Homo sapiens: one gene and its partners. The protein of the gene in region 7 interacts with the protein of the main gene of each other region in a pairwise test. Each region holds a gene or a part of one and is shown on either strand. Other genes may lie near its edges. The genes, in order: HNRNPC, EDARADD, MBD1, FSBP, FAM118B, ZBTB26 and SUMO1.

Region 1 (4,507 bases), on a different chromosome or scaffold from region 7:
GTTCTGTATATATACACACAGCATAGCAAACGTCAAATTCTGTCCCAAGCCATTCATTAGCTAGATTAATATGGATAGCTTACACTTACCCATTAAGTATAATTTTCTTCAAAAGGCAATAAATAGAATCAATTCATTTACACTGGAAACACCTATTTCCAGATACTTCAATTAATCTGCAGTATGCTTTAGATACATAAGTATCAATACCATCTTTTTACAGACTGCAATGACTCGAAGGCTACTTTTTATATAACCTAAAATATAGGACATTTAATAATATCGGATGGTGATGATGATAAAACTAGCCAGTGGAACACGGCATGAATCAAATTAAAGATTGGGGAATTAAAGAAAAATACACAACTTTCCACGCATTATTTAAAACCAAAAATTATCTGTCTTTATGTATGTGATGGAGGCTCAATCCTACCATAACCATATGCAGATTCACAATACCATCTCAGGTCCCGTAAAGCGAAAATGTTTTATTTCATTCTTTTAGCATTTTGTTTCCTGCCTCTTCCCACTCCAACCCCCAATCTTGAACAAGATTTAAAAACATTCTTAAGATTGATTTCCCCTTCATCCCTTTGAAAGGTACTGATAAATCTCAAAAGATTCCAGTATTTGTTATCCTTCCAATCCTCAAGTGAATCATGACAAACTAGTTCTCACGGATGATGTAAAAAAGTCTAATGTATACATATATGTACATAAAAACAGGTAGTTTAACACCATTTCATATATACATGACTCCTATCATTCTGATGCTTAATACAGTCATTTAACAGGCAGTACTGATTTAAAAGCTCAAACAAAACTTCACTTCCTTCCAAATCTTTCTGAAATTCAAAAGTCTGTCTTTGTTACTTTCTAAAGTATATCTTTACAAAAACTTCTTAATATTTTAACACTAAGCAATAAAAATTAACAAACAGTAGCCACTGAAATCCACCAACAGCCTTTCAGCTATTAAGTATGCCAGAAAGTCTGAGGACACTAAAAAGAGGAATTAAAACAAAAATCTGCATTGAGGCCTAACTGGTTTCAGATACTACTGCTGGTTATTAAGATTTCCCATTATTACAAGTGGAGGTATAATCTGGTTTTAAGCAACTATTTTTCACAAATAGGTTTATCAATAGAAAATATAATCTCCATAGGTTTAATGAGAAGAAATTACCAGGGGTGAGGGGCTCCGTAAGCCAACACAGAATACTGACCATAAGGGAAAAAACCCATCAAACCACAGTCCAATGTTCCAAATGGACATTTGCAGAAAAATACAGATGTGATTGAAAGGGGTACCCTTTGGAATAAGACAGAAATGGATTTAAATGACCATTTTCTCAATTTTCACAAGTCTGAGTACATAGCTAGTATTATTTTCACAAGTCTGAGTACATAGCTAGTACTAATCAAGATGCAAGGAATTCATACCCCACGGCATTTTTCATGTGTATCAGGCCTTAATTCTCTCAAAGATCCACAAAGGAAAAACTCAGTAGAAAAGCATCCAGGCATACAAGGATGCTAGCAATGGTTGTTATGAGTTTAAGGATATGATTTCTCATTTTCTTTATGGTCTGGTTATTAAATTTGCTACAAAAATCATCAACTACTTATTTTTAAAATACAAAAATCCCAACTTCCAAAGTTTGCCTAAAATTAATAAAATACCCATACTTACTATGAGGACTTAAATTCAAGATGGAGGCAACAGTAAAGACAGACGTACTCACAATACGGATTAATTCCACTCTTAGTAACGTGTCCTCCTAAGGAATGAACAGTCACTACAAATTCATTCATTTTGGGGATCAAATATTTACTAACCATGTGCTGAGTACCACATTTCAGGGAAAATCCAGGGCACAAATAGTAACAAAGACTGTCCTGAGAGCTTCCTTAAATTCCAGTGGTATTGCTACTTCAAATTTTATGGAAGAGGTACATTTCCTGAAGTTTTAGAAATAACCAAATGATGTCAAGTCACACTTCATTCTACTTCAAAATTTTAAAGTATCATACAGGTGAAATTTCCATAAAGGGAGGACGATACTGTAACACAAAGAAACTACTGGAAAAGAACTGGGATTCTTGGAAGGGGTCAGCAAGAGCAGAGTAGTTTTTGAATCTCTGACTCCCAAAATAAGACTCAAGATGGCAAAATCACTATCCTACAGACAGCATTTAAATCAAAATTCCAAAATGCAAGGCAGTAAAGGCAAGCCAGCATATATGGTTTCACTGACTGTGGGAGAAATAAAAGGTAAGCAACTTGGAGAATAATAGACTTAGAAATACAAGAATACCAAAATAACCAGCAGTTATTTATTGAAAAGCAACAGGAACGAAATTTTAGAAAAGCAGTTAAAACTTAGAAGTTTCACCTGCTCCAATAGTGGGTGAGCACAAGGGACTTCAATAAAAATGTGTGAAGGTGCAAGAGCAGTTGCATCCCTGTAAAGTCTCATAAGTAAACAAACCCTATGTGGTTGATTCCACTGCCAATCCCCCTTCCTCTCACCAAAAGGTAACAACCATTATGACTTTACTAGCACTTTCTCACTTTTAAAATAATTCTAATGCCTAAATGTATAACTATAGACATTCTAGTCTTCCCAGAAAAATAAACGTGATGCATTTGAAGCATTTTTGTAGGTAAGTTCCGCTTCTATTGCATTAGGTTAAAATTTATCTGTTTAAGAATCCACAGTATTAACTTGTAGTTTCCCAGTCTGTATTTTCCAGGATTGATACTCTCAGAACAATTCCACATATTCTTCTGTAACTCTTGAAAGCAGCAGCTGGGACCAAGGCTTACTCAGCTTCATCTGCAATATTTTGTCAAGACTACCTCGTCCTACAAGTGGCAATACCTTTTTGTGGTGTTATTGATGCTTAAACAATACCATTTCTCTCTAGGTAGTATGGTGTGGTTTCTCGAGCACCACTTTTAACATGTTACGCAGACTGTTGTTAGAAATCCTAAGAACAGTCCCTCAGTTCTTTCATGTAACAGGTTGCCAGCATCCTTTTATAGTAGTACAATAGTTTAGATAAGTAAAACAAACTCCTTGATCACATTTTTTTTTTAATTTTTTTGAGTTGGAGTTTCACTCGTTGCCAAGGATGGAGTGCAATGGAGCAATCTTGGCTCACTGCAACCTACGCCTCCCTGTTCCAAGTGATTCTCCTGCCTCAGCCTCCCCAGTAGCTGGGATTACAGGCATGCGCCACCAGGCCCGGCTAATTTTGTATTTTTAGCAAAGACCAGGTTTCTCCATGTTGGTCAGGGTGATCTTGAACTTCTGACCTCAGGTGATCCGCCTGCCTCGGCCTCCCAAAGTGCTGGGATTACAGGTGAAAGCCACTGCACTCGGCCCTGATCCCATTTTCTTGCCTTGTTACTCCCTTTACATCTGGAAGGTGTAAAAACCACTTGTAGAATGAATAGGTCTACTTTTGCTTTTTGCCTCATACAGATCTAAATTACTTGGTCATATTCTATATGAATTTTTATAACCGAGTTCTAACAACTAACAACCCAATAGTAATAAATGTCCAGCAATAATAGTCTTTTAAAAATACAACTTCAAGTGATGTGCAAATTATAATTTGAGTCAAAAAAATAGTATCTGAAAACGTACAATACATAGGAGACATAAATGAACTACATAAAAATCATTTAAGAACGGACAGTACAGAAACACATCAAAATATCTTAAAATGTTCTGTGGGTACTCTGCTTGTGATTAATCTTTACAATCATTTTCACAGTTTCTCTGTATTTCCCAAATTCACTACAATGTACATACAAGCTTGGGATTTCTGTAGGAAAAACTCATTTAAGCCAAACAAATATTCCTTAAAACAGAAAATCCATTTGGTAGAAATTTTAAAAGGTTAATCACATTAGTAATAATAGTCCAAGTCTTAATGCACCTGTATATACTCAAATATTTTGAGGTCAATGCCCCTCATCATCATATTTCCCCTCTTCTAGTTGAAGGGGTCTAGAATTTTTCTTTTTTTAATGCAAGCTAACCCAGGGATCCTACTCTATCACCATTTACTAGTATGTAATAGTCGAATAATGCTGTTAGATAATAAAATGGCACTAATTTACATGAACTAGATTTAACATTAAGAAATCTGGGGCTGGGTGCAGTGGCTCACACCTGTAATCCCAGCTCTTTGGGAGACTGAGGCAGGCAGTTCACATCAGGTCAGGAGTTCAAGGCCACTCTGGCCAACATGGTGAAACCCCATCTCTACTAAAAATACAAAAATCAGCCATGCGTGGTGGCCTGCACCTGTAGTCCCAGCTACTCGGGAGGCTGAGACAGGAGAATCGCTTGAACATGGGAGGAGGTTGCAGTGAGCCGAGATCGTGCTAATGCACTCCAGCCTAGGCAACAGAAGGAGACACTGTCTCAAAAACAAACAAACATACAGTTCAAATATTCCAGCCTCCATTATTTGTAAATCAGAAGGTTAA
Region 2 (4,507 bases), on a different chromosome or scaffold from region 7:
TGGGAGGCTGAGGCAGGAGAATCACTTGAACCTGGGAGGCAGAGGTTGCAGTGAGCCGAGATCACGCCATTGCATATTGCACTCCAGCTGGGCGACAAGAGTGAAACCCCATCTCAAAAAAAAAAAAGAAGAAGAAGAGGAAGAAGAAGAAGAAAGAAGAAGGAGAGGGAGAAGGAGAAGAAGAGACGAGACACAAACACCCTGGGAGAAGATGGTCATGTGCTAACGAGTGAGAGAACGGAGTGATGCCTCTATAAGCTGAGGAGTTTCCACGATGGCTGGCAACCACTACAAGCTAGAAGAGACAAGGAAAGATTCTTCCCTATGGGTCTCAGAGGGAGAATGGCCCTGAGGACACCTTGATTTCAAGCTTCCAGCCTCCAGAACCAGGAGCAAATACATTTCTATTGTGAAAGCTGCCCAGTCTGTGGTATTCTGTTGCGACAGCCCTAAGAAACTAGTAAGAGGGACACTTTGGAAAGATCACTTTGTCCCCAGCATGGAGAAGTAATTAGAGGTAGCTGAGCCCCAAGGTGAGCATAAGGACATAGCTCCAAGGGAGGGAAAGAAAACCTGGTATCAGGAAGTAAGCAGGATACCAGGGAGAACTGGAGAGTCACAGGTGGGGGCAGTGGGAAGGGAAAGAAGGCAAACTGAATAACACTTTATAGAAACCAAAGGCTTTAGTAACAAGCTACTCCAGAGACATATAAGCCATGGCCACAGGGTTGTTCTTCGTTCCATTTTGATCAGAGTGAAGAGACTGAGAATTTTTCATAGGAATTTCCAGTGGGTATCAAAGCTTGACCCCCTACGCTGTCTACAATTTACCAAGCCAGGGGTAATTAAAGGACAGGAAAACAAACACCTCAGGTCCGCAAGACACCTAAGATTTAAAGACATTTAGTTGAATTACATGAAGTGTATTCTGTGTCGCTGTAACTAAATCAGTTAACCAAAACTTTTCATGAGTTGGTAGATCCCATCCTCTGAGGATCTGGAACAGAAGGAATGTGTCCTACACAATATGCCCATCACACACGCTGCCTGACAGAGAGCACCGCTTTGGCCCTCAGCAAGAAGCAGTGCTGGGCAGGAGCACAGGGCTCCGGTCTAGGTGGCGGCACACTTCCATTAACTGTCCTTTCTGCATCTGTAGGATGGGGGTACGTGCCCCACCATCTCAAGGGATGGTTGGGAGGATCTTGGGAGGTTGAAAAATAATGATGGCAGCCATAAAAAAGAACACAATTCTCTCCTTTGCAGCCACATGGATGCAGCTGGAAGCCATCATCCCAAGTGAAATAACTCAGAAACAGAAAATCAAATACTGCATGTTCTCACTTATAAGTGGGAGCTAAAGAATGGGTACCCATGGACATAAAGATGGAAATAACAGACACTAGGGACTCCAAAAGGGGGGAGGGTGGGAGGAGGGCTCAGGGTTGAAAAATTACCTATTAGGTACAGCGTTCACTATGTGGGTGATGGATTTATGAGAAGCCCAAACCTAACCATTATGCTATGCATCCACGTAACAAAGCTGCATACGTACCCATGGAATCTGAAATTAAAATGATAATAATAATAAAACCATAAAATGAATTTTAAAAAACCAATATATGTGAAATCTTTGGATACCCTTAAAGCAATAGCCTCAGAATGGTTACGGGAGGGTGGGGAGAGGATGTGGCTCAGAAGGCAGCTGCTAGAACTAAACGCTGTAACTGAGGTAAATCCAATAGCGTGTGTCCATCTGGCATCCCAGGCTGCTCCATTACCAGACCAGTAGTATTAAAAACAGGCAAGTAGGCCAGGTACGGTGGCTCACATCTGTAATCCCAGCACTTTGGGAGGCCGAGGGTGGCAGATCACCTGAGGTTAGGAGTTCAAGACCAGCCTGGCCAACATGGTGAAACCCCCACTCTACCAAAAAAAAAAAAAAATTAGCCAGGCATGGTGGCACATGCCTGTGGTCCCAGCTACTTGGGAGGCTGAGGCAGGAGAATCGCTTGAACCTGGGAGGCAGAGATTGCAGTGAGCTGAGATCGCGCCACTGCACTCCAGCCTGGGTGAGAGAGCAAGACTCCGTCTAAAAAAAAATAAAAATGAAAAATGAAATAAAAAAAAACCAGGGAAGTGGGTAAAGCCCTCACATAATGTAATATCACCTCCAACATGAGCAAAAGAAGAAAAGAATCTAACGCCATTTTTAGCCTGGAGAAACCCAAAGTTTATTATTATCACGTAGAATACCAAGATAAAGCAGTTATCTTAGAAAAATCTTACTTTGGGGTTTCTGATGCACATGTAAATACTGAGTAATAAAAACGTAAAGAAATAACAAAGAAAAAAAGCAAAACAATAATTATCACCATTAGTGTAAAATTTGTCACCTACCATATTAAAGGATAAAGTGCTAGGGTCTGTGTCTTCCACTGGTTCCTTTACCATATGATCTGTAAAAAGAACAAAAACAAACAAATAGAGCGGGTTTGCTTTAATTTAAAACCACAAATGAGTCCTTTGATAACTGTCTCTATACAGAGGCAAGTAATTTTACTTAGGCTGAAGAAAACCTTACTCCTTTTTTTTTTTTTTTTTTTAAGAAATAGGATTGGCTGGGTGAGGTAGCTCATGCTGTAATCCCAGCACTTTGGAAGGCCAAGGCGGGTGGATCACTTGAGGTCAGGAGTTCGAGACCAGCCTGGTCAACATGGTAAAACCCTGTCTCTACTAAAAAATAAAATAAAATAAAAATAAAAATTAGGTGGGCGCCTGTAATCCCAGCTACCCAGGAGGCTGAGGGAGGAGAATCGCTTGAGCCCAGGAGTCGGAGGTTGCAGTGAGCCAACACAGTGCCACTGCACTCCAGCCTGGGAGACAGAGTGAGACTCCATCTCAAAAAAAGAAAGAAAGAAAGAAAAAAGAAATAGGGTTTGCTCTGTAGCCCAGGCTGGAGTACACTCAGTGGCACAATCATAGCTCACTACAACCTTGAGCTTCCGGCCTCAAGCGATCCTCCCACCTCAGCCTCCCAAAGCACTGGGATTACAGGCATGAGACACCGCACCTGGCCTGAAAGTCTTACTTCCAATTATTAGTTGAGACAAAATAAAGAGGAACAGATTCAGATTGCATCAAGAAATAGATTAATAAAAAGAAACTATAGGCCAGACGCAGTGGCTCACGCCTGTAATCCCAGCACTTTGGGAGGCCAAGCCGGGCAGATCACCTGAGGTCAGGAGTTCAAGATCAGCCTGGTCCAACATAGGGAAACCCCATCTCTACTAAAAATACAAAAATTAGCCTCGCATAGTGGTGCACACCTGTAGTCCCAGCTACTCAGGAGGCTGAGGCAGAAGAATAGCTTGAACCTGGGAGGTGGAGGTTGCAGTGAGCTGAGATCACACCACTGCCCTCCAGCCTGGGTGACAGAGCAAAACTCCATCTCAAAAAAATAAATTAATTAATTAAAAATATAAAAAGTAACTACATAAAAAACCCCACCATATTTTGGAACAGGTTACCTATAAATATCTTCAAATACCCAGAGTTACAAACAACCACAAACTATGCAGGCATCACATTAATGACTCTCTTGCCTACTGAATTTGACACTACCTTCGGCAGGAATGACTCCATTCTGAATCTACTTCTTTCCTGATTTCCTATTTTGCTGCAACTCATTTTTCTTAATCTTCTGAATGTTGTTTATGTGGACTAATAAAGAAAAAACCATAGTTTTTTATCAAAAATAATCTTGATTTCTCAATATTTTGTTTCTGATACTTTATCACTTGATGCATTGAAGGAATTTAAAGGGGAAATACGGAAAAAGGCACAGACCTCAGTCAGGACCTAATTAGTACAAATTAGAAAAGTTTCCCATCTCCAAAATGCTTTATAAGACATCTGCCAGAGAGCTGTCTCAGTAAATAATCAAATCTTTTTGCGTGGGATCCTCCAGATTTGTGCAGTGAACGACCTGCAGTACCCTAAGTGGCAGTCGTGGGTCCGCCAAGAGTCAGCATTCACTTTTGATCCAAATCCTCATTAAGTACATATTGCAGACTAGGAATTAGGTCCTGGGAATGCCTTTGGGGATCCAAATAAGCACAGCAGGACAATTTGTCAAGATAATAATTTGTGTGTGTTCTTCCTAGGTGTTTCCCAGCTGAGAATGTGTCTGAACTTTCCACAGTTTCTTTGCCCTGCAGGTGTTGATAATGCCCAAAGAAGTTTCGAGAAGGCAACATCTCTTTGTTTTATGCAGCCTCCAGTCACTGAAGAGAAATGGGGACGAATGGAGAGAGCCTTTGCCATTGCCTCCCATGGAGCAGGATACAGACATCTGCAGAGCATGAAGGTGGCAAGACTGCATCAGAGACAGCACAGAGCAGCCTAACCCCCGGGGACCGCGGCCCAGCACCAGCAAAGAGACCTGTGCCCTGTGTCCAGCACAGAAACAGAGGGCTGCTGGGTCTCAAGGGACTTCTCAGGCCAG
Region 3 (4,507 bases), on a different chromosome or scaffold from region 7:
TTTTAAGGTCTTTGGACCTAGGGAAAAGGGAGCAGGTCTGTATGTTGAATGAGGTTTGCTATGTGCGCAATGGAGCATTACAAAACCATTTCCTACTATTCTGTGTCCTCCATCCACTTCCCCTTAATTATCCTTTATCTTTTTTTATATCTTCTAAAAACTACCATTATAGACAGCTTGTACATAGTCAGATTATAAGCTCCCTGAAGGTAGGTATCCTGTGTCTCCTGAAGGGTAAGCTTTGCAGGGCTCATTGTCCTCAATGCTGTGCACCCAACAGGAACTCAATCAATACTTCTGTAATTGGCCAAGTATAGATGAAAGGGTTTCTAGCCTGGTGGGCTGGTTTGTAGGAGCAAAGGAATCCAAGTGCTTAGGCCAATAGTTTACATCGCCAGTGTCTGGGGCTCTATGCAGGGTCTGTCAATATTCTGCAGGAGCCAGCACTCCTCTGTCCTCCCAACCACCCTAGTCCTTACAGGCATCTACCCTTTGTTCTATGCCAGGACTACAGGGACAGTTCTGCAAGGCATCTGAAGTTAATAACCTCAATAGGCTCAGGAAAGGCTCAAGAGATCCAGCCCAAGCCCTTCCACAGAGGCCGCTCCAGGAAGTGCAGGGCAACCAGAGATCACACAACTACGTGTGAACCCAGCTCACAAAGCCAGCTCGGAACCCAGATCTCCTGCCCATACCACTGCCCAGGCAAGCCCAGCACCATTTCTCTGGTACACATTGCTCAATGTCAGGCAACAGCCCACCCAGAGGTCTCCTGGAGACTCTAAAGGCCTTCAAGACCCAAATGATTATTCTCTGAATAAGAATTTATATATTAAAGCTGACCCCTATAGAAATTCCTTAGGAAAATAGGGACCAGACTCCCTATCTTTTTCTTTCAAATCTCATGATAGAGTACCAAGTCTTTCCCCTACCCCCAAAGGAGAGTCCTAACCTGGAATGCTATTGGGCTGGATCTCAGGAGAAATCTCTAGGGTCCTACACACACGCCCCTCATTAATTGTGACCAGCATAGTGGGTATGGGCCTTTACCTCCCACCACACCATGCCAAACTGCCGGCTATACTTTCAAAACTCAGGGCCCACATCTGGCCAACACCCACTCCTTCCCCACCCCTCACTGTGTGGGGCACACCTTGGCAACCAGACTGCTGTATCTCGGAAGCGGGTTCCACCCAGGCTGAAAATCTCCGTGATCTAGAGAAGAATTAACACCATAGGTCAATGTGGTTGTTGGGGCTACAGCAGGGTCAGGGCAGGGTGGGGCATCCCCAGCACTGACCACGGGTGTGCCAGCCCCTCCTGCCTCTTCCTCTGGGGCCAATTTGGAGGCAGAATCATCCTTGTTCTCCTCCTTGTCCTCCTCTGGGTCAGGTGGCTCTTGCTTCACAGAAGGCAGGCCTGGGTCTACTGCCTGGGAGAAGTAGGAAACAGGCAACCATTAGAAGGGCAGAGTTCACCTGAGGAAAGTCTCTATCAGCCAACCCCTCACTGTGCTGACAAATCCTACTTCCATCACATTTCAACACAGAAAGTCCATCTCTCTGCCTACAAAGCTTTCCCATTCCCATTCCTCACTGACCTCCGTTTTTCTGTTAGCTGGATAGCAAAGCGGGCAAAGCTAGTTGCCTGTGGGAGGTAGGGTGTCTGTTAGACAGGCGGGGTAATTCTGCAGAAACGTCGCAATCAGCACATCTATTGCTCTGCTCAAGAGAACCATCATGGCTCATCATCACTCTGCTTACAGACCACTCCGCTACGGCACCAACAGAACATCCATCACTGCCCCCACCTTGCTAGGGCAGCCAGGCACCAATACGGGAGAAGTCAGGACAGCTGTGCCTGGTGTCCACTCGTCCTGGGTATCCGCCTTCTCTTGCTTCACCTGGGGTAAGGCCACAACCCAACTCAGGCCAGAGCACTGGGCCTCCTGCGTGAGGGAGGATTGCAGCAGACTTGGTCTCAGCTCCCTGGCATGCAGCTGGGTGAGGCTGGGAAGGCAGGACAGGGTGGGGCCCTCACCTGCAACAGGGCTTCTGTGGAAGCTGCAACAGGGCCCGGCACCTGCACAGGACTGCTTGCGCCTTCCCGTAAAAACACAAGGTCAGTGCCAGGCGGGGGCAGCACAAAGCCACCACCTGCTTCCTGCTTCGTTGGAGCCTGGGTATGGTCTGGTTGGGCTGTGCGTGTAGCCAAGGTGGGCTTCAAGGTAGGGCCAAGATGGTGCCGTCGGGCAGAGCTGGGCCTCTTTCGACGACGGTAAGGTGGGGGCGATCCTGCCCCATCCTCAGACTCTGACCAGACACTGGGCAGCAGCCGCTTCTATGGGGAAAGATAGGGTGCTATGGCTACCTGGTGTCCTGACCAATCACATCCACCCTGCCCGGCTCCACATGCCTGCTAATCTCCCATCAGTCCCAGCACGGAATCTGCTTACATATGAGCCCTTCATCACTGAGCCTGCTAGTCTCCTATTAGCAACACCAATGCCACCTAGACTCATTAAGCCAAGAACAATGTCTGTTAATCCTCAACCAAAGCTACTGCCCCACCCACCCACCTACCAAGCCTGCCCACCACTTCCAGGCACTGGGGCGCCTGGCCCAACCTATCCCGTCCACCTGACCCTTCCTGCCCCACCCACCATGGCAAACTGCAGGCATTGGCGCCAACGACACTTCTGGCGCTTCTGGTTGCTGCCCCCGAATTTGGGCTTGTCGCAGCAGAAGTCGCAGCGGCCACAGTCCATCCGCCGTAGGCAGGCTGCACAGGCCCCGCACTTGCGGTTCTGCCGGCGGTTCGTGTAGGGCTGCTGGGGTGGGGGGAATGGGTGGTGCTGTCAACTAGGACTAGGAGAGGCCATCCTCAACGCCTATTCCAGTGCTGGTCCTGGTGCTCCTCTAGCCCCATAAGACGGAGCTACTTGCATACTAGTCTCAGCCTCCTGACTCCCCACTAGTCACTCCTCAGCATTCGCTAGTTCAACATTGGCCACTATCACTGTGCCAGCTGGCCCTCGATACCATTAGGACTGTGGCTGCTCCACTACAGTATCCACTGCTGTATTTCCTAGGCCACCACTAGCTACCAAGAAAATGTCTCTGACCCCCATTTCCAGCAACATTTTGATAACTCTCTATTAGCTCCCATCACTGTGCCTACTCTGTCGCTCATCCTAGGTGAACCCCAGTCACTATGCTAGCTGCTCCTCTGTCAATCCCCACATCAGCTACCAGAGTGTTGGTATATGTGACATGAAGCACTCTCATGCACCTGCTGACCCCGTATTAGTCCTCCATTATCTACTCATCCCATCCTAGGACCCATTATTGTGCCTTGCTGTTCCCCAATAGGCTCATTCCAGCATCTGCTTCTTTGAAGTTAACCAAGCGTCCTGAGATTCTAGGCTTATCCAGGTAGGGTGGGGCCACTCACTAGCTCGTCCTCGTCTACACAGTAATAGATGAACTCGGCAGGTGGCGAGGGGGCCAGGGCTCTGGGGTGCTGTAGAGGCAAATGGGGTGGGGTCAGGGCAGGTACTGGGTAAGGTCAGGGTTGTGCCTTCCCTCCACCCACTGGGGCCTCACCGGCTCTGTGGGCTCTGGGGACTGTGATGGGGGTGGTGGAGGCAGTGGCTGGGCTCCGGGGCGCCGCCTGGCAGCCATCTTGGAGTCACAGCCTCCCTTGCGGCGGGCATGTTTACCCTGGGAAAGATCAGAAAGGGTGGTTTCAGCTTGGTGGCACCAGGCAGACACAGAAACTCCCCACACCCTAAGTGCAGAAAGCATGCATGGGACAGGCAGACAGAGGGTGGCGTGAGGCACTCACAGTTGGGGGAGCCACAGCCAGGGGAGTGCGTCGCTGACATCTCTGATGACGGCGACGCAGGCGGTGAGCAAGGTGCTGGCAGACAGAGGCAGGTAGGCGGGGCCAGAAAGGCGAGCATAGGGTTAGGCAGAAAAGAAAGACATGAGGTAGGCAAGGCCAGGTTGAAAGGAAGCAGAGGCAGCGACGATTTTAACAGCAGAATGAGCTCTGCTCCCTCCAGCCCAACTCACCCGTAGGCAACGTCGCTGGACACATTTCCACTGGCGCCTGAGACCAGGGCGGGGAGGGCGAAGGCAGATGGGGCAATGGCCACAATCCTCTTGGGTCTGACAGCCCCGGCATACTCCACACCCTCGGCTCTGTTGGCGGGGGGCAGGTGGGAGCAGAGGCATGAAGCATGGGGCCAAGCCCATGGGGGCCAGGGGCCGAGGTGAGCCTTGGGCTCTTTCCACTTGCCCAACTCACCCTTTCCACAATCCGGAGGCAGCGTCTCCGTTCACACTTGCAGAACAGCCCCGATGCCACATCATGGGGCAGCTGCAGGAGGCAGGTGGAGCAGGCCCCACAGTCTTCTGTTACCTGGCAGGCTGCACACTCCCCACAGCCCACACGCTGCCAGGAATGGTAGGGACGAGATCACGGGCCTGCTCCAGAAGCACTG
Region 4 (4,372 bases), on a different chromosome or scaffold from region 7:
GGAAATTGCCAAGAAGTCCATCAAAAGATAATGGATAAAAAGTGTGGTATATTTATGCAATGGAATACTGCACAGCAACAGAAAGCAATGAGCTACTAATAGGATGGATAAACATGGATGAATATTAAAAACACTAAGGTGAAAAAAACAGAAACAAAGTATGCATATTGTATGATTCCAATTACATGAAGTTCTAGAATAGGCAAAACTTATCTATAATTTTTTTTAAATTAGGACAATGGTTGCCTGACGTGCAAGAAGACTGATTAGAAGCAGGCAAGAGAGGACTTTCTGAGGTGATATTGTTCTAATTCTTGACAGAGGTTTGAGCTACACAGTTGTAGATCAAAACTCACCAAATGGTATATTTTAAATTTGTGCATTTCACTGTATGCAAATCTTACCTAAAAAACACACATGCACAAATAAATAGTGAACTCTAGTAATACTCATGCTGAAGTACTTAAGGGTAAATTATTCTAACTCTACAACTTGTTTCGAAGTAACATTTTTCCTTTAAAAAAAAGAATTGATGGATAAATAGGTGATGAAGCCAAGTATAGCAAAACATTAATTGCAGAATCTATGTGGTAGATATATGGATACTTACTATAACTATCTTTTCACTTTTTCTGTATGTTTGAAAGGTTTCTTAATGTTAGGGGAAAAAAAACTTTGTAACAGAGGTGAATTCACACATAAATTTTAAAACAAAAAAGACCTGCTAGCAAAGTGGAATTATAATGATATATCCTTTTAGTTTAAGTTGTCAGGACTGATATGAGCGATATTTTTATTTTTATTTTTATTTACTCATTTATTTTGCTTTCCACTATTACAAAGCAATTGGAAACTAAAAATAAATAATATGTTCAAATTATAACTACTAGCTTTAATCAATATAAAAGATTTATAAAAATATATTGAACAATTTCTCAAAATCGTATACAAAGATTTTGCTTGACTGTTAATGTTTAATTAGATTGCATATTCTAAGAACTTACTCTTGTTTAAGTATGCAACCATATTTCATCTAATTACTTTTAAGTGTTTACAATCAAATTCACCATCAAATATTTGATTTTGAGAAGCTGTGGCTCTTAACATTTGAAAAAAGAAATGAAATGTGATATTTAGATATGGTACATTGGCCATCTATTATAACATAATCATCTAAATAAATGTATTTCAATTATACCTCATCAAAAAATTTTACCTCTACAGTACTGAATTATTTGTCTTAACGGCACACAAAAAAAGTACACAAATCAGTACAAAGTAGTATCTTGTATTTAAAAGAACATGTGTTAACAAAGCATTTAACCATCATTATCTACAGTATATATTAAACACAATTTATTACACTCTAAGTTATTTAAACATGTGTATTTAAAAGTTGACATTACTCCAAAAGAAGGCACATGAAAAAAACTCATAGTTTAAACATTTTCACATAAGTAAAGATAGAACAGGGTAGAATGACTCCTTAAAAAAAAAAATGAAATAACACCAAGTTAATATCTCATCATACACAAAAGAAAAATACTTGACTATTTTAAGAAATCTGGTATTCGTTAGAAATGAGTTTCACTGACTTTTCTCAGGATGTCATTATAAATCACAGCTAGTTTAGAAAATCATAAGTTGTAACAACATATCCATTACATTCATATGGATAAGAGAAAGATAGGAAAGTGGCTATCCACTATCTAAATTACTAATATATTGGATGAAATAATCTATATACTTAGTATATTTATCAAATGTAGTATATTTCTACAGAATCAAGTCTACATTTAAAAAACAAAATCACTCTTCTCTATGTTCTCCCAGCATTACATTTTGTAATTAAAGCTCATGGACCCCAAACAATTGTCTATGATATGCAAGATGTCTGGTGGCTTAAGTGTATAGTCATCCCTCAGTATCCAAGGGGGATTGGTTTCAGGACACCCCCTACCCCATCAAGATCCACAGATACTCAAGTCCCTTATATAAAATGTTTGTATTCACATACAATTTACACACATCCTTCCATATACTTTAAATCATCTCTAGATTACTTACAATGGCTAATATAATGTAAATACTATGTAAATAGTTGTTAGGATACAGGACAAGTGAGCCCCAAAACTGGGGATTAGCCCAACTCCTACCTCAGTTATACCGTCTTTTTAAATTTCGTATTACTTTTTATTGTTGTACTGTTATTTATTTTTCTGCCTGAATATTTTCAATCCACAGTAGTTCAATCTGCAGATGTGAAACCTGCAGATAGAAAGCCAAGTGTACATTCCATTGTACTAGCAAACTTTCCCCTATATATTCCCCTTAATGAAACTTGTCCTCAACAAAAACTGCTAATGTTAGTTGGTAAGTAGTCCCCTAACTCAAAAAAGTCTCAATACAAAAAAGAAGAAAAAAAAAGGTTTGGTTCCAAATTACCCTAAGATACTCTGTAAGATAATAAACAGCCTCGGAAAAGGATTCTATGGTCAAATAAATAATTTTCTTTATACAGGAATTCTCATAAACTATACTATGTTAATCATGGTTATACAAGGGGAGGTAGACAATGAGGAGAATTATATGCATTTAAACTTTTGCAAATTAAAAGTAAACAAGACTGACTTGGAGAAAAACAAGATTGACTTGGAAAAGTTGCTGCAGTAAACTCAAAGAGTGTGATTCTGGTGTTTAAAAATATGTAAAAATAGGTTTCTTATTGTATACAGCCCCTAAATGCTAATGAATTGTGTCACCTAACACACTAAAGAAAAAGCAATCTTAAACAATGCTGCAGAAAAATATGATTGTAGCAGACTATGTTTATGCTATTTTATGGGCAGCAAAGGAATTTTCAAGGGCTATTTTGTATATACATAATTTTTACCTTCCACAATTATTTTAGAACCTAACCACCAAAAATAAAAAAGATGTATACTGCACTTTTTTTTAACACAGATCTCTTTTCTAGAAACATCTCACAGAATTAATGTTCCACAGAACACACTTGGGAAAACTCTGATTTGCTGTAAAAGCCAACATTTAAATTGAACATTCATTATCAATTCTTAGTAGCATGCTGAAACTGTAAAGTGAATTACATCTCATATATGTGCTTTCAATAATTTCAAAAAATAAAGCTTACTACTGCCAAGATGTGTTTACTAGAATTATACTGGGAAACATTACCTCAAATTAAGAATTACAAGATTCATTAGACTCAAAGAAAAGTCATAGCACAGATTAAAGAGAAAAGGTAACATTGTCAAAAGGATATATCAAGTTATATATTCAGGACATCTTTATAATTAAAGAAGTTAACTCTACCAGCTATAAAACACCCTCTTTTTAATCCAACCAATGAAATTAAGTAGTCAACATGCTAAAATAGTACCTTGAGTTCATTTTTTTCTATTTCTATAGCCATAACTTAAATTTCTGATTTAAGTTCTTCCAATACAATGCCTGTCCCTAAATGCCACTCCTCCTAAATCACAACTATAATCAAATTAGCCCTCTAATTCAAAGCATTCAATGGCTTCTCATTGTACGTTAAGTCTGACTCATTAAAAATAGTATTTAGGCTGGGCACGGTGGCTCAAGCCTGTAATCCCAGCACTTTGGGAGGCCGAGGCGGGCAGATCACGAGGTCAGGAGATCAAGACCATCCTGGCTAACACAGTGAAACCCCGTCTCTACTAAAAACACAAAAAATTAGCCAGGCATGGTGGTGCGCCTGTAGTCCCAGCTACTTGGGAAGCTGAAGCAGGAGAATCGCTTGAACCCAGGAAACGGAGATTGCAGTGAGCCAACATCGCACCACTGCACTCCAACCTAGGTGACAAAGCAAGACTCCATCTCAAAAAAAAAAAAAAAAAGTATTTAATGTAATTCATAATCTGGTATCAACCATCATCCAAATTTATATCCCTCAGTTCACTTTCAACTACTCTTCGACAAAAATTTTGAGACTAGTATGATTTAGGCACCAAGCGAGGTTCCAAAATACTCTGTTTCACTGGTTCTCAAACTTTAGCATGCATCAGAATCGCTAAAGGGTTTATTAAAAGAGATTGCTGACACCCCCAGGGTTTCTAATTCACTTGGAAATGGATTTACATTTCTAACAAGTTCTCAAGTGATGCTGATGCTGCTGGTCAGGACCCATACTTGGAAAACCATTGGTCTACTCCAAAGGCCACAAAGTGGAAGCCCAATGGCTCAGTGAGGCCCACTCACATGTTGTCTGTATAATGTTTTAAAAGCATTTTGTGTTATTTGCAAACATTTTAAAATTGGAAGATTCCTCATTAAAAAATGCAGATTTCTGGTTTATCCCCGCATGTGAAAATTCTGCTGGAGCTAA
Region 5 (4,507 bases), on a different chromosome or scaffold from region 7:
ATCCTGGCTGGTTTGTAGTTTTCCTTTTTTTTTTTTAGAGGCAGACAGGGTCTTGCTCTGTCACCGAGACTGCAGTGCAGTAGCACGATCACAGCTCAGTGGAGTCTTGAACTCCAGGGCCCAAGTGATGCTTGTGCCTCATCCTTCCAAAGCGTTGGGCTTACAGGCCTGAACCACTGTGTTTAGTCATTTTCATTTCTTCTGATGTCTTTTGTTTGGTTTTGTTATCAGGATAATATGGGCCTCATACAATGAGTTGGAAGTACTCCCTCCTACTCTATTTTTTAGCATAGTTTGGGAAGAATTTCCTCTAGCCCTGTCAAGCAATAATCTACTTTCTGTTCTATGGATTTGCCTGTTCTGGACATTTTATATGAATGGAATCATACAATATATGTCCTTTTGTGTCTGGCTTCTTTTACTTAATGTTTTCAAGGTTCATCCATGTTGTTGTATGGGACGAGCACTTCATTCCTTTTAATGGCCAATTAACATTGCATGGACAGACATTTTGTTTCTCCATTCATGAACTAGACATTTGAGTTGTTTCCACTATTTTGGCTATTATGAATAACGTTGCTATGAACATGAGTGTACAGTTGCTGCATGAATATGCTTTCCATTCGCTTAGGTATATACTTATGAGTGCAGTTGCTGGTTCATAGAATCACTGTTCAACTTTTTGAGGAACTGCCAATCTGTTTTCCAAAGCAACTGCATCACTTTACATTCCCACAAAGGTTCCAATTTCTCCACATCCTTAATAACACTTATTATTGTCTTCTTGATTCTAGTCATGCCAGCGGGTGTGAAATGGCACCTTGTTGTGGTTTTGATTTGTATTTTCCTAATGACTAATGACGCTGAACATCTTTTCGTATGCACTTATTGGCCGTTTGTGTATCTTCTTTGGAGAAATGTCTATTCAACTACATCGTTATTTTAAAATTGAATTATTAGCCTTTATTAAGTTACAGTAGTTCTTTATAGATTCTGGATATTATACGCCTATGAGATATGTGATTTGCTAACATTTTCTCATTCTGGAAGCTGTCTTTTCACTTTTTTTTTTCTTTTGGTAGAGACAGGGTCTCACTATGTTGTCCAGGCTGGTCTTGAACTCATGCCCTCAAGCAGTTCTCCTGCCTTGGCCTCCCAAAGTTCTGGGATTATAGGCATGAGCCACCATCCCCGGCTCACTTTCTTGACAGTGTCCTTTCAGCCTAACAGTTTTTAACTTTGGAGAAGTCCAGTTTATCTATATTTTTTTTTACTTTAGTTTTTTGCATTTTTGGTGTCATGTCTAAAAAACCACTGCCAGATCCAGTCATGAAATTTTAAATCTGTATTTTCTTCTAAGAGTTTTACAGTTTTAGGTATCATATTTAGGTCTTTGATCCATTTTTAATTTTTATAAAGTGTATGGAGATTCCATGAACTCTTTAAAACCCCATTAATTCCTTTTTTTTTTTTTTTTTTTGAGACGGAGTCTTCCTCTGTCGCCCAGGCTGGAGTGCAGTGGCGCGACCGCAACTCAGTGCAACCTCCACCTCCCGGGTTCAAGCCATTCTCCTGCCTCAGCCTCCTGAGCAGCTGGGATTACAGGTGCCCACCACGCCTGGCCCTAGAAGCCTGATTTTTAAGATTTTAAAACAGGCTGGGTGCAGTGGCTCATGCCTATAATCCCAGCACTTTGTGAGGCTGAGGTGGGCAGATCACTTGAGGTCAGAAGTTCGAGACCAGCTTGACCAACATGGCAAAACCCTGTCTCTACTAAAAATACAAAAATTAGCTGGGCATGGTGGCACATGCCTGTAATCCCACCTACTCAGGAGGCTGAGACAGGAGAATCGCTTGAACCCAGGAGGCGGAGGCTGCCATGAGGCGAGATCGAACCACTGAACTTCAGCCTGGGTGACAAGAAGAAGATTCCATCAAAAAATAAATAAATAAATAAATAAATTTTCAGACAAAGCAAGACAGGGAGTCCTTTTATCCAACTCAGTTTGGTAAAATAAGGTGCAATTCCTTCTAAATATTTTGACTTATTACCTCTAAAAAGAACACTAAAAACTGGTTTTGTTTCATGTATAAAATGATAAAATTATCTCCAATCTTTGTGGGATTCCATACAAGGCATGGATGCCACAGAACACAGCTTTTATAGTAGTGATGCAGGAAAAAAATAAATTCAAAACACAGTGGTAATTTGTACATATAAAGTCCTCAACATCATTTCTCTCTCATAGACACACAGTGAAATGGGGTTAAGACAACTGTCCTGAGTAGGGTCCATAAACAGACATTGCGCAGAAGAGTCAAATGTTATGGAAACCTACAAGCTGTAAATGAATATCCCTGTTACATTTGGCATGCTAGTTTTGACAGCCAAATCATGCTAGTTGTGATAGTTAAATTTTAGGAAATTCCAAATACTGTGGCACATACTAGGGTACTCACAGGAGAGAGTTTCTGGATAAGGTCATGGGCAACATGGACCAGGTTCTTGTCTTCATGGAGACATTTCTGAAACTTTTTGCTCTCCTCATCTTCTAAAAGATCAAAATCAATGGCAGCATCCAGTAAGGCCTGAATTAACCCCTTCCAGGATTTGAGGGCTGGAACTTGGGGCGCAACTGCAGCACTAATGCCTGTTCCAATCACTAGCACAAGTTCTCGAGGCTTCTTAGTTTTTAAGCTTGGAAGCAGCTTCCTATAAAAGCAAAACAAATGAGAGGATTGGAATATCCAATAGATATGAGGCACACAGAAAGACTGTCTGACTCAGGTTACAGTTTTTAGCTAACTTTTATAGTTGCAAAGAAGATGAACAGCAGTTTTTGACACCTTTCCAAAGCAGTTTAAAGAAAACAACCAGAATATTGTGTCAGTGCTTGCTGAAAAACAAGTCATAAACCTATTTCAGGAATCCCAAAACCAATCTTAAAATCAGTTTTCCCTTCCTAGTCCTCTCAACCTAAGAAATTCCACTAATATTAGGAAAAGATCCAAATAGACTATAGCTCAGCTGACTTCTGCCAACTAAATTATATTTTAAACCAGTATTAAATTTCAAAAGAAGACGTTTGATTTGTACTCTAGAAAAAGAGAAAAGAACCCCAGGACAAATTAAGTTCCTATTATTGAGAAATGTAAAACACTAGGGGAAAGGCAATACAAAATTTAATTCTGAATTTTGTAAACATTAACCTCAGGCAAAAAAAAAAAAGAAAAAAAAAGTGGCCAATAGAATTCTGAAAACACAGGGGCCCTACATACCTAAATAAAGACATTAACTAATCAAAGGACATGACAAAAAGTGAAAAACATTCCTTTCTTACCATGATAAGCAGAGACAGACTTCTCTGTTCTGAGGCCCATATGTGAGACAGCATGGGTGCTAATTTTTGTTTTTGTTCCCCTCTCTTTCATTCTGGAGACTATCCCTGCTTGAAATATGTTCCTTCACATTAATTTTTGCTGATGGCATGTTCCCCTCCCCTGAAAATGGCTTCTCCCCAACCTTTTTGTCTAAATAATAAAATGGAGAGGATCAGCATTTTGGCATAACTCAAGAAAGGAATAGCACTTTCAAGCCTTGGGAAACCTGGTTTTGGGGACACAGCCTCTAAAACTGCTTTCCCTAACCCGAGCTTCTGCATTCAGTCATTCAACAAATATGAAAAACCGAGGCCAGGAGCAGTGGCTCACGCCTGTAATCCCAGCACTTTGGGGGGCCAAGGTGGGCTGATTACTTGAGGTCAGGAGTTCAAGACCAGCCTGGCCAACATGGTGAAACTCTGTGTCTACTAAAAATACAAAAATTAGCTGGGTCTGGTGGCGCACACCTGTAGTCCCAGCTACTAGGGAGGCTGAGGCAGGAAAGGAAAACCTGTATGTACCAGACACTACGGGAGTCATGTATCCATGAACAAAATGGAGTCCCTGATCTTGAAAGATCAGTCTACTAGAAAAGACATTAATAATAGATGTTAGAAGCAAATGATGAAAAATGAGTTTCAGTTCAGAGCAATCAAGATAGTGAAGCATACACAAATCCACATAAACAAATATACACACACATAGAAAATTTCTAGGATTCACAAGATGTATAAATAGTGGTTAAATGGGGATAGCAGAGAATAAGGACTTTTTACTTTTCATTTTATACTGTTGTACTGTATTTTTTTATATAACATACAGATTTGAACTATAATTCTTCCTAATTAAGACTTCCAATTTGGCTAAGTGCAGTGGTTCATGCCTGTAATCTCAGCACTTTAGGAGGCTGAGCTTGAGCCCAGGAGTTTGAGACAAGCCTAGGCAACTTAGTGAGACCCCATCTCTGCCAAACAAAGAAAGAACGAAAAAGAAAATTAGGCACGTCTGTAGTCCCAGCTACCTGGGAGGCTAAGTTCACGGGAGGATCACGTGAGCCCAGGAGGCTGAGGTTGCAGTGAGCTGTGTTTGTGCCACTGCACTCCAGCCTGGGTGACAGAACAAGACC
Region 6 (4,507 bases), on a different chromosome or scaffold from region 7:
TAGGGTTTGTTACCAAAATAGTTTTGGCAATATAAAACCAAATTTCAACTTTCTTTTTTTTTTTTTTTTTTGAGACAAGGTCTCACTCTGTCATCTGTCACCCAGGCTAGAATGCAGTGGCGTAATCATAGCTCACTGCTGCCTTGGCACCAAGGCTCAAACAATCGTCCTGCCTCAGCCTCCTGAGTAGCCAGGACTACAGGTGCACACCACCACACCTAGCTAATGTTTTTATTTTTTGTAGAGGCAGGGTCTCGCTGTGTTGCCTAGGCTGGAGTGTAGTGGCGCAATCAAATCTCGCTGTAACCTAAAACTCCTGGGTTCAAGCAGTCTTCCCACAAGGCCTCCCAAAGTGCTAGGATTACAGGCATGAACCTGTTTTAAACACTTAAAAAAAATTTTTTTTGATAGTTAAAAAAAGTTTCTTATGAACCATCTTAATTTTATTTAAAAATAAGAGAAATGATACCTAATCTTCCTTGCTACATTTCAGGTATAGATGTTATACCTAAATTGACCCATTTAGGCCGAGCACAGTGGCTCATGCCTGTATTCCAGCACTTTGGGAGGCTGAAGTGGGCACACTGCTTGAGCTCAGGACTTTGAGATCAGCCTGGCCAACACGGTGAAACCCCGTCTCTACAAAAAATACAAAAATTAGCTGGGCGTGGTGTCATGCGCCTGTAGTCCCAGCTTCTTGGGAGGCTGAATGGGAGGATGGCTTGAGCCCACGAGGCAGACGTTGCAGTGAGCCATGATCATGCCACTGCACTCGTCTGGGTGAAAGAGCCAGATCCTATCACAATAAATAAATAAATAAATAAATAAATTGACCCATTTAATCGTGAAAATTTCTACAGGTAAGTATTACCATTATCCCACATTTTGTATATGACGAAACTAAGCTTAGAAAACATAAATAACTTGTAAACCCCAACGGAGGTTGAAAGTGTTAAGTGTTAGATCTGGAACTGGTGGTTTACACTGCATGATGCCAAAATCCAGGTATGAAACAACTAATCTAGGTACAATTTTTTTTTTCTTGTTTTGAGATGTAGTTTCACTCTTGTTGCCCAGGCTGGAGTGCAATGGCGTGATCTCGGCTTGCTGCAACCTCTGCCTCCTGGGTTCAAGTGATTCTCCTGCCTCAGCCTCCTGAGTAGCTGGGATTACAGGTGCCTGCCACCATGCCCAGCTAATTTTTTTTTTTTTTTTTTTTTGGAGACAGAGTTTCACTCTTGTCACCCAGGCTGAAGTGCAATGGGCTTGCCGCAACCTCCACCTCCCGGATTCAAGTGATTCTCCTGCCTCAGCCTCCCCAGTAGCTGGGATTACAGGCAGGCGCCACCACGCCTGGCTAATTTTGTATTTTTAGTAGAGACGGGGTTTCTTCATGTTGGTCAGGCTGGTCTCGAACTCCCGACCCGGGTGATTCACCTGCTTCGGCCTCCCAAAGTGGTGGGATTACAGGCATGAGCCACTGCGCCAGGCCTAATTTTTGGATTTTTAGTAGAGATGGAGTTTCACCATGTTGGCCAGGCTGGTCTTGAACTCCTGACCTCAGGTAATCTGTCTGCCTCAGCCTCCCAAAGTGTTGGGATTACAGGTGTGAGCCACTGCACCTGGCTGGTACAGTTTTATCTCAAGGATAATAATTGTGTAACTCGGCTAGGTGCGGTGGCTCACACCTGTAATCCCAGCACTTTGGGAGGCCGAGGTGGGCAGATCATGAGGTCAGGAGATCGAGACCACGGTGAAACCCCGTGTCTACTAAAACTACAAAAAAAAAAATTAGCCAGGAGTGGTGGCGGGCACCTGTAGTCCTAGCTACTCGGGAGGCTGAGGCAGGAGAATGGCGTGAACCCGGGAGGTGGAGCTTGCAGTGAGCTGAGATTGTGCCACTGCACTCCAGCCTGGGCGACAGAGCGAGACTCCGTCTCAAAAAAAAAAAAAAAAAAAATTGTGTAACTCTTCAGATTTCCTTCCTTACATTCAGTATCACAAACACAGGCCAAGAAAATTCATTGAGCTGCACACTTATGACTTGTATATTTTTGTTTTTGTTATGCTTCAAAAAAAGGTTTATGTTTAAAAACAAGTTATAACTTCAAGCCAAATTTGCATGAAATTAGAAGACTTAAATGGCAAGCATATATGTATTAGTCATATTCCTGATTGCATATTATGCCTTTATCCTTATTATACCTTTCTCATCTATTTTACTTTATATTATTTTCCATCTTTTGTGTATTTATCTTTGTGGACTGAAACTTAATGCCATTTGCAAATAAAGCAGACAATAAAAATTATGAATATATTTGATTTCACAATCCCCAACTGTAGGTAACTTCTAAGTATAGCAGTAATTACTCAAAATAATCATAAAAATCACTCAGATAATTCTAGGTTATAGTCAAGCTTCTTGTAACTGAAGGAAAGTAAAGAACTGATCAGGTAGATCAGAGACACAGTCATCATATTTTGTTGATTCTTTCCTCAGAATGATCACCAACTCCTCACTCCTCCATTCTTACATCATTGCCATAGTTCAGGTCTTTATTATCTATTGCCTCAGTTACTGAGATTAAATCTGAATACTGTTGAGTTTCTATTAGCAAGTTTTGAATGATATTTCTCAAACATCAATGTAATGGGAATATTCTCACTTCCTCTTCATTTATATTTATACAATCCTTCCACAATTATAACTAATTTGAAATTTTCCCTTTGTTCAAATGAGGATAGTAAAAAATGACTAATTACTGAATATTCCAGGTGGGACAATGTAAATTGCTATACTACAGGCAGTGAGAAAATAGTTTCTTTTCTCAAATGCTTCTAATAACTACTGGCAAGTAAAATTTTTCTATCTGTATAATAAATTCTTAAGCTAGGTATCAGTTTGCTTCCTCACCTGTCTCATAAAAGTGCCCTTATCTTTCAACTTACCACTCAAAACTACTTGGAAATCTTTGTCCCTCATTGACATGGTATGTTCTTTTTCTAAAGAGGCTGTATTATACTACAGCCTTTCTCTCTATAAACCTTAATCTTGTTCTTCTTTTAGGTAACTTTCATGACACGATACTCTCCAAGTTATCAAGCTTTTGTTTCAACTTTTAAGTAATATATACAGAATGTATTCTTCTTGAAAAATTTTTGAAGATTTTAGATGTAATTCCCCTTCTCAACTGCCTACCACTCAGTATTCAGTTTAAGTTTGATCCTTCCTGACTCTCCCTCCTTGCATTTTGTTTATTTATTTATATATTTATTTATTATTTTTTGAAACGGAGTCTTGCTCTGTTGCCCAGGCTTGAGTGCAGTGGTGCAATCTTGGCTCACTGCAACCTCCACCTCCGAGTTCAAGCAATTCTCCTGCCTCAGCCTCCTGAGTAGCTAGGATTACAGGCATGCACCACCAAGCCCGGATAATTTTTGCATTTTTAGTAGAGATGGGGTTTCACCATGTTGGCCAGGCTGTTCTTGAACTCCTGACCTCAAGTGATCCATCCGCCTCGGCCTCCCAATGTGCTGGGATTATAGGCATGAACCGCTGTGCCCGGCCCCTCCTGGCATTTTAAAAACAATACTTCTATATGTCTAGCCACAAAAGTATAACGTAATTAAGTTTCTTATACATAAACTATACATATTGTTTTGCAACTTACTTTTTTCACTCATTGTTTTTGAAAGCAATTTATGTTGATGAATATAGATTTAATTCTTCTTTTGATTTTTTTTCATTTTTTGAGACCAAGTCTCGCTCTGTTGCCCAGGCTGGAGTGCAGTGGTGTGATCTCGGCTCACCGCAACCTCAGCCTCCCAGGTTCAAGTGATTCTCATGCCTCAGCCTCCCACCTCCCAAAGTGCTGGGATTACAGGCGTGAGACACCACGCCCGGCCTAGTTCTTTTTTTTGAACTGTTATGTGGAAGTGGGCAAATTACTTAACTATTGAACTGTTTTCCACCATTGTTTTGCTGGTCTGTTCTTTGAGGCTTCACTAAATTGTATAAGGGTAAGTATCTCTTTCAAAGCTAAGTCTCCAATTTTTTGCTATTTTTTTCAAAAAGCCTGTCTTCTGTTTCTCAATGTTTTATTACCTCCCTATGTTAACAATCCCTAAATCCCAATCCCCATGGCCAAACTTAACCAAACTAAATCTCAATTCAAGGTACTCAAAAATACCTGTTCTAGGCTATTTCCCTATCACTTGAAATGCATGATGCCTGCACTCATGCACTGTCTAAACTTCAATAAGCCAAAAAAATTTCTTATGGAGAATGGCTTGGAGAAAAGTACAAGGAAGCATTTTAGTATGTGATTACTCTAAACAGATCAAGACAGAATGGCATGGGCCTGAAGAGAGACAACAATAATATGGATGGAGAGGGGAAACAGATTTGAGAGACATTTCCAACAAAGAACTGATGGGCTTGGTGACCAATGTGGGGAAAGGGTCAAGATGACTCCAAGATATTTGGTTTCTGTAACTGGATATCTTT
Region 7 (4,507 bases):
AGAAAAATGTTAGACTATAAAAGCAGTTTTTAAATTGACTACAATTACGTGGCCACTAATTTAAAAGTGCAAAGAGATCCAAATGTGACCCATACTTACACTCCTCTAATATTAAGAATCCTGTGTTCTTTAATCTAAAGAATATAGAGGTGTCTTTCCTTCTGATTCTGTCTATTTAGTTATGCATCTTACTTTCCTGAGTCAATTTCACTTCCCAGTTTATTCGCTATATAAAACTGAAGTGTTTTTGACAGCCATGTTAAAGAACTTTTAAATCTAATGAAACATGTATTTAATAGTTTAAGTGATAGTTTAATAGGATATATCTAATTTGGTGTTTGTTTGTTTTTGTTTTTTGAGACAGGGTCTCATTATATTGCCCAGGCTGGAGTACAGTGGCACAATCTCAGCTCACTGCAACCTCAGCCTCCTGGGCTCAACCTCAGCTCACTGCAACCTCAGCATCCTGGGCTCAACCAATCCTCCCAGCTCAGCCTCCCAAGTAGCTAGCACTACAAGCGTGCGCTACCATACCTGGCTACTTTTTCTATTTTTAGTAGAGATGAGGTTTCGCCATGTTGCCCAGGCTGGTCTCAACTCCTGACCTGCAGTGATCCAGCCCGCCTCAGCCTCCCAAAGTGCTAGGATTGCAGGCGTGGGCCACTGTGCCTGACCAAAAAGTTTTAAATTTTATAGGTAACATTTTTGTGCAGAATTTTAAATATGAAAATAAAGTATGTTAAGAAATCTAAACATAACACATGTGAATTTAGGATTTTAAAGTGATCAGAATGGCTCTAGTAGTGTTAAGCTATCTTGGTTGTGGAACATATTTGAATATTTAAATAATTATTAAACATGCTTTTAGGCCAGGTGCAGTGGGTCACACCTGTAATCTCAGCACTTTAGGAGGCTGGGGGGGCGGCAGATCACCTGAGGTCGGGAGTTCGAGACCAGCCTGACCAACATGGTGAAACCCCGTCTCTACTAAAAATACAAAATTAGCCAGGCGTGGTGGTGCATGCCTGTAATCCCAGCTACTCAGGAGGCTGAGGCAGGAGAATCGCTTGAACCCGGGAGGCAGAGGTTGCGGTGAGCCAAGATTGTGCCATTGCACTCCAGCCTGGGCAACAAGAGCAAAACTCCATCTCAAAAAAAAAAAAAAAAAGATGCTTTTAAAACAATTTTAATTGCCCATATAGCATGGTAAATACTGCAAGGAATAAAATTCCAAGTGTTATTAGAAACCTTCAAAACAGGAAGACAGCATGAGTCCTTGAGCTATAAAGAATATAAAGCTACAAACTTCAAGAAGTACATTAACAGAGACAAGTGAACAACAGCACAGGAGGGTCACTCCCTAAAGACCTACTGTCTCCCACTGCACCAACATTCCTCTGAAAAAATAATCTCTTAATTACAAGGAATGTGTAAGGCATGTGTCAGTAAAATGTATTAGATATCTACTGTATGGTCCCAGAGATTATGCCAAGTTAAAGGAAAGTAAAAGATGAGTTTGGAACTTCTTACTGTGCCAGAAAGTAAGGAAGTGTTCAAGAAGGTGGTGGACACTAAACCTAAGGGGAATATTTGATGAGAAAGGGGATATTCGCATAGTTTCAAAGTGTGTCCCCTCAAATTACTTAATTGTAACAGGAAAAACAGTTAACTACAAAGTAAAAAAAAAAAAAAAAAAAAAGAGACAACACTTAAACTAAGTGATCAAAGCCTGGGCACATAGGGAGACTCCATCTCTACAAAAAATTTAAAAGCAGAGCATGGTGGCACATGCCTGTAATCCCAGCTATTCAGGAGGCTGATAGTGATAGGATTGCTAGAGCCCAGGCATTTGTGGCTGCAGTGAGCTATGACTGCATTCTAGTAGTCATACTAGAAAAACATAATATTTTTTTTTTTTTGAGACAGGGGACTCCTCGCTCTGTTATCCAGGCTCGTCTCGAACTTTTGGGCTCACTCAAGTGATCCTCCCGCTTCAGCCTCCCAAGCAGCTAGGACTATAGGCGTGCACCACCAATCCCAGCTATCAAATGCTGCACAATGTTATTTTATTTTATTTACTTTATTTTTGAGACAGGTTCTCACTCTGTCACCTAGGCTGGAGCACAGTGACATGACCAGGGCTCACTGCAGCCTCGACCTCCTGGGCTCAAGTGATCCTTCCACCTCAGCCCCCCAAGTAGCTGGGACTACAAACATGCACCACTAAGCCTAGTTAATTCTTTTTTTCTTTTTTTTTGAGACAGAGTCTCGCTCTGTTGCCCAGGCTGGAGTGCAGTGGCGTAATCTCGGCTCACTGCAACCTCTGCCTCCCGGGTTCAAGCGATTCTTCTGCCTCAGACTCCCGAGTAGCTGGGACTACAGGCACATGCCACCACGCCCGGCTAATTTTTGTATTTTTAGTAGAGACGGGGTTTCACCATACTGGCCAGGCTGGTCTCGAACTCCTGACCTCGTGATCCGCCCACCTCGGCCTCCCAAAGTGCTGGGATTACAGGCATAAGCCACTGCACCTGGCCAAATTTTTTTATTTTTAGTAGAGACGGGTTTTCGTCATGTTGCCCAGGCTGGTCTTGAACTCCAGGACTCAAGCAATCCACCCACTTTGGCCTCCCAAAGTGCTAGGATTACAAGTATGAGCCACCGTGCCTGGCCCACATGCTGTGCAATTTTAATTGGTGAATCTAAGGAATAGTTATACAGGAGAGTATTACACTATTCTCACAATTCAGTAAGTTTGAAATATTTTCAAAATAAAAAGTTAATAACCCTATATTGTTCCCACTATCAGAAATATCAGTAATGTTACTCTGTGTATGAAGGGAATCTATGTATATAGATACACACACACATACACACACACACACACTACTTTGAGATATCTCTATAGAGGGAAGATGGGTGGAATATAAAAGCAAAGCAAACTGCTCATAGAATAAAAAAATCAAATGAAGACAGAGAAGCATAAAAAAATAGGGTAAAACAAGATGACAGAGCCAAATATATTAATATACACTATGCTTCTGTATTAACATTCTCAAAATAGGTCAAAAATGAAAATCCAGCCATTAATGTTACCATCACCATGAAAGTATACCAGAAATTTACCAAATTTGAGGAACATTTGTCTATCTTCAAAAAGGATGTAGCATGTGACCTATGACAATTTCAGTACTCATTTTGTTTCTACCACCCTTTTTATTGGCACTTTTAAAGGCACTATAGGGGAAGTTCAACCCAAAACATTATTTCTTCTCTCCAACAAATGATATGCCATTTAAATCAGAGAATATTCAAGAAAAGGGCAGTTTTAACACCAGTGAACCAAACTGCTCAAAGGAGAATTTAAATTTTTTCTTGACTCAGGAGAAAAGTATACTCACTTCTTTTGGAGTATGATTATCAGCAATTCTCTGACCCTCAAAGAGAAACCTGAGTGAATTCATTGGAACACCCTAAAAAGGTAAAGATAATAATAATGCATACATACACACACAAATATTAGAAAACATAATGGTAACTTTGATGCACAAAAAGCAAGCATGAAAGCCTTAGAACACTACATAGAAAATAAAATTAGACAAGCTAATTCAATCATAAATACTATATACTGTACTGAGTAGCAACTATTTGCAAGGCCCTCCCTGTACCAATTCTTTACATACATAATCATAAGTGTTAAACACAACAACCCTGGAAGGTAGGTATTACCACCTTATCTTCATGTTACAGCTAGGGAACCTAAGGCTTGGAGCTAGCCAAGAATTTAAGCCCAAACCTGTTTCTAAGCCTATGCTCTTGACCACTACTCGATTCACTTTGCCCTAAATCTGTAAGCTAGAATAAAAGATCAGATCAGAAACTGGACGTGCACCCTCACTAGCTTCCAACTATACTGGCGAAATTGGTTTTAAACAGATTACATCATAAAATTTGGTAAAGCACAAATGGCTAGCTAGCTAATCTACCATAAACCTGGATGGCATAGATAGCGCAATATTACAAAATATATTAGTATACATTTTTCTAATCACTCTTCAACAAAAATAGCTGAAAGGGGAGACGGCTCACTTGAGGTCAGGAGTTTGAGACCAGCCTGGCCAACATTATCATAAAATCTGGTAAAGCGCAAATGGCTAGCTAGCTCATCTACCATAAACCTGGATGGCACAGATAGCACCATAAATATTACAAAATATATTAGTATACATTTTTCTAATCACTCTTCAACAAAAACAGCTGAAAGGGGAGAGACGGCTCACTTGAGGTCAGGAGTTTGAGACCAGCCTGGCCAACATAATGAAACTCCATCTCTACTAAAAATACAAAAATTACGGGGCAGGCGCAGTGATTCAGCCTGTAACCCCAGCACTTTGGGAGGCCGAGGCGGGTGGGTCACTAGAGGTCAGGAGTTCAAGACCAGCCTGGCCAACATGGTGAAACCCCATCTCTACCAAAAATACAAAAATTAGCCTGGCGAGGTGGCACG

Evidence for each region.
Region 1: the proteins of SUMO1 (region 7) and HNRNPC interact in binary tests that used the Homo sapiens proteins (3 or more experiments, as listed by UniProt).
Region 2: the proteins of SUMO1 (region 7) and EDARADD interact in binary tests that used the Homo sapiens proteins (3 or more experiments, as listed by UniProt).
Region 3: the proteins of SUMO1 (region 7) and MBD1 interact in binary tests that used the Homo sapiens proteins (3 or more experiments, as listed by UniProt).
Region 4: the proteins of SUMO1 (region 7) and FSBP interact in binary tests that used the Homo sapiens proteins (3 or more experiments, as listed by UniProt).
Region 5: the proteins of SUMO1 (region 7) and FAM118B interact in binary tests that used the Homo sapiens proteins (3 or more experiments, as listed by UniProt).
Region 6: the proteins of SUMO1 (region 7) and ZBTB26 interact in binary tests that used the Homo sapiens proteins (3 or more experiments, as listed by UniProt).

Annotation. Positions count from the first base shown.
Region 1 is NC_000014.9:21,234,680-21,239,186, forward strand, and holds part of HNRNPC (heterogeneous nuclear ribonucleoproteins C1/C2), read right to left. Parts: intron 1,782-4,507; exon of another isoform or gene 1,694-1,781; intron 1-1,693. UniProt on the Homo sapiens protein: Binds pre-mRNA and nucleates the assembly of 40S hnRNP particles. Interacts with poly-U tracts in the 3'-UTR or 5'-UTR of mRNA and modulates the stability and the level of translation of bound mRNA molecules. Single HNRNPC tetramers bind 230-240 nucleotides.
Region 2 is NC_000001.11:236,407,168-236,411,674, reverse strand, and holds part of EDARADD (ectodysplasin-A receptor-associated adapter protein), read right to left. Parts: intron 2,460-4,507; coding exon 2,401-2,459; intron 1-2,400. UniProt on the Homo sapiens protein: Adapter protein that interacts with EDAR DEATH domain and couples the receptor to EDA signaling pathway during morphogenesis of ectodermal organs. Mediates the activation of NF-kappa-B.
Region 3 is NC_000018.10:50,271,524-50,276,030, forward strand, and holds part of MBD1 (methyl-CpG-binding domain protein 1), read right to left. Parts: intron 4,459-4,507; coding exon 4,312-4,458; intron 4,206-4,311; coding exon 4,077-4,205; intron 3,922-4,076; coding exon of another isoform or gene 3,847-3,921; intron 3,723-3,846; coding exon 3,606-3,722; intron 3,523-3,605; coding exon 3,454-3,522; intron 2,831-3,453; coding exon 2,663-2,830; intron 2,341-2,662; coding exon 2,041-2,340; intron 1,949-2,040; coding exon 1,811-1,948; intron 1,433-1,810; coding exon 1,301-1,432; intron 1,216-1,300; coding exon 1,154-1,215; intron 18-1,153; coding exon 1-17. UniProt on the Homo sapiens protein: Transcriptional repressor that binds CpG islands in promoters where the DNA is methylated at position 5 of cytosine within CpG dinucleotides. Binding is abolished by the presence of 7-mG that is produced by DNA damage by methylmethanesulfonate (MMS).
Region 4 is NC_000008.11:94,426,444-94,430,815, forward strand, and holds the end of FSBP (fibrinogen silencer-binding protein), read right to left. Parts: 3' UTR 1,273-4,372; downstream 1-1,272. UniProt on the Homo sapiens protein: Transcriptional repressor that down-regulates the expression of the fibrinogen gamma chain. Represses transcription of GSK3B gene promoter via its interaction with APBA1.
Region 5 is NC_000011.10:126,238,998-126,243,504, reverse strand, and holds part of FAM118B (protein FAM118B), read right to left. Parts: intron 2,714-4,507; coding exon 2,461-2,713; intron 1-2,460. UniProt on the Homo sapiens protein: May play a role in Cajal bodies formation.
Region 6 is NC_000009.12:122,924,567-122,929,073, forward strand, and holds part of ZBTB26 (zinc finger and BTB domain-containing protein 26), read right to left. Parts: intron 1-4,507. UniProt on the Homo sapiens protein: May be involved in transcriptional regulation.
Region 7 is NC_000002.12:202,207,334-202,211,840, forward strand, and holds part of SUMO1 (small ubiquitin-related modifier 1 isoform a precursor), read right to left. Parts: intron 3,474-4,507; coding exon 3,402-3,473; intron 670-3,401; coding exon of another isoform or gene 535-669; intron 1-534. UniProt on the Homo sapiens protein: Ubiquitin-like protein that can be covalently attached to proteins as a monomer or a lysine-linked polymer.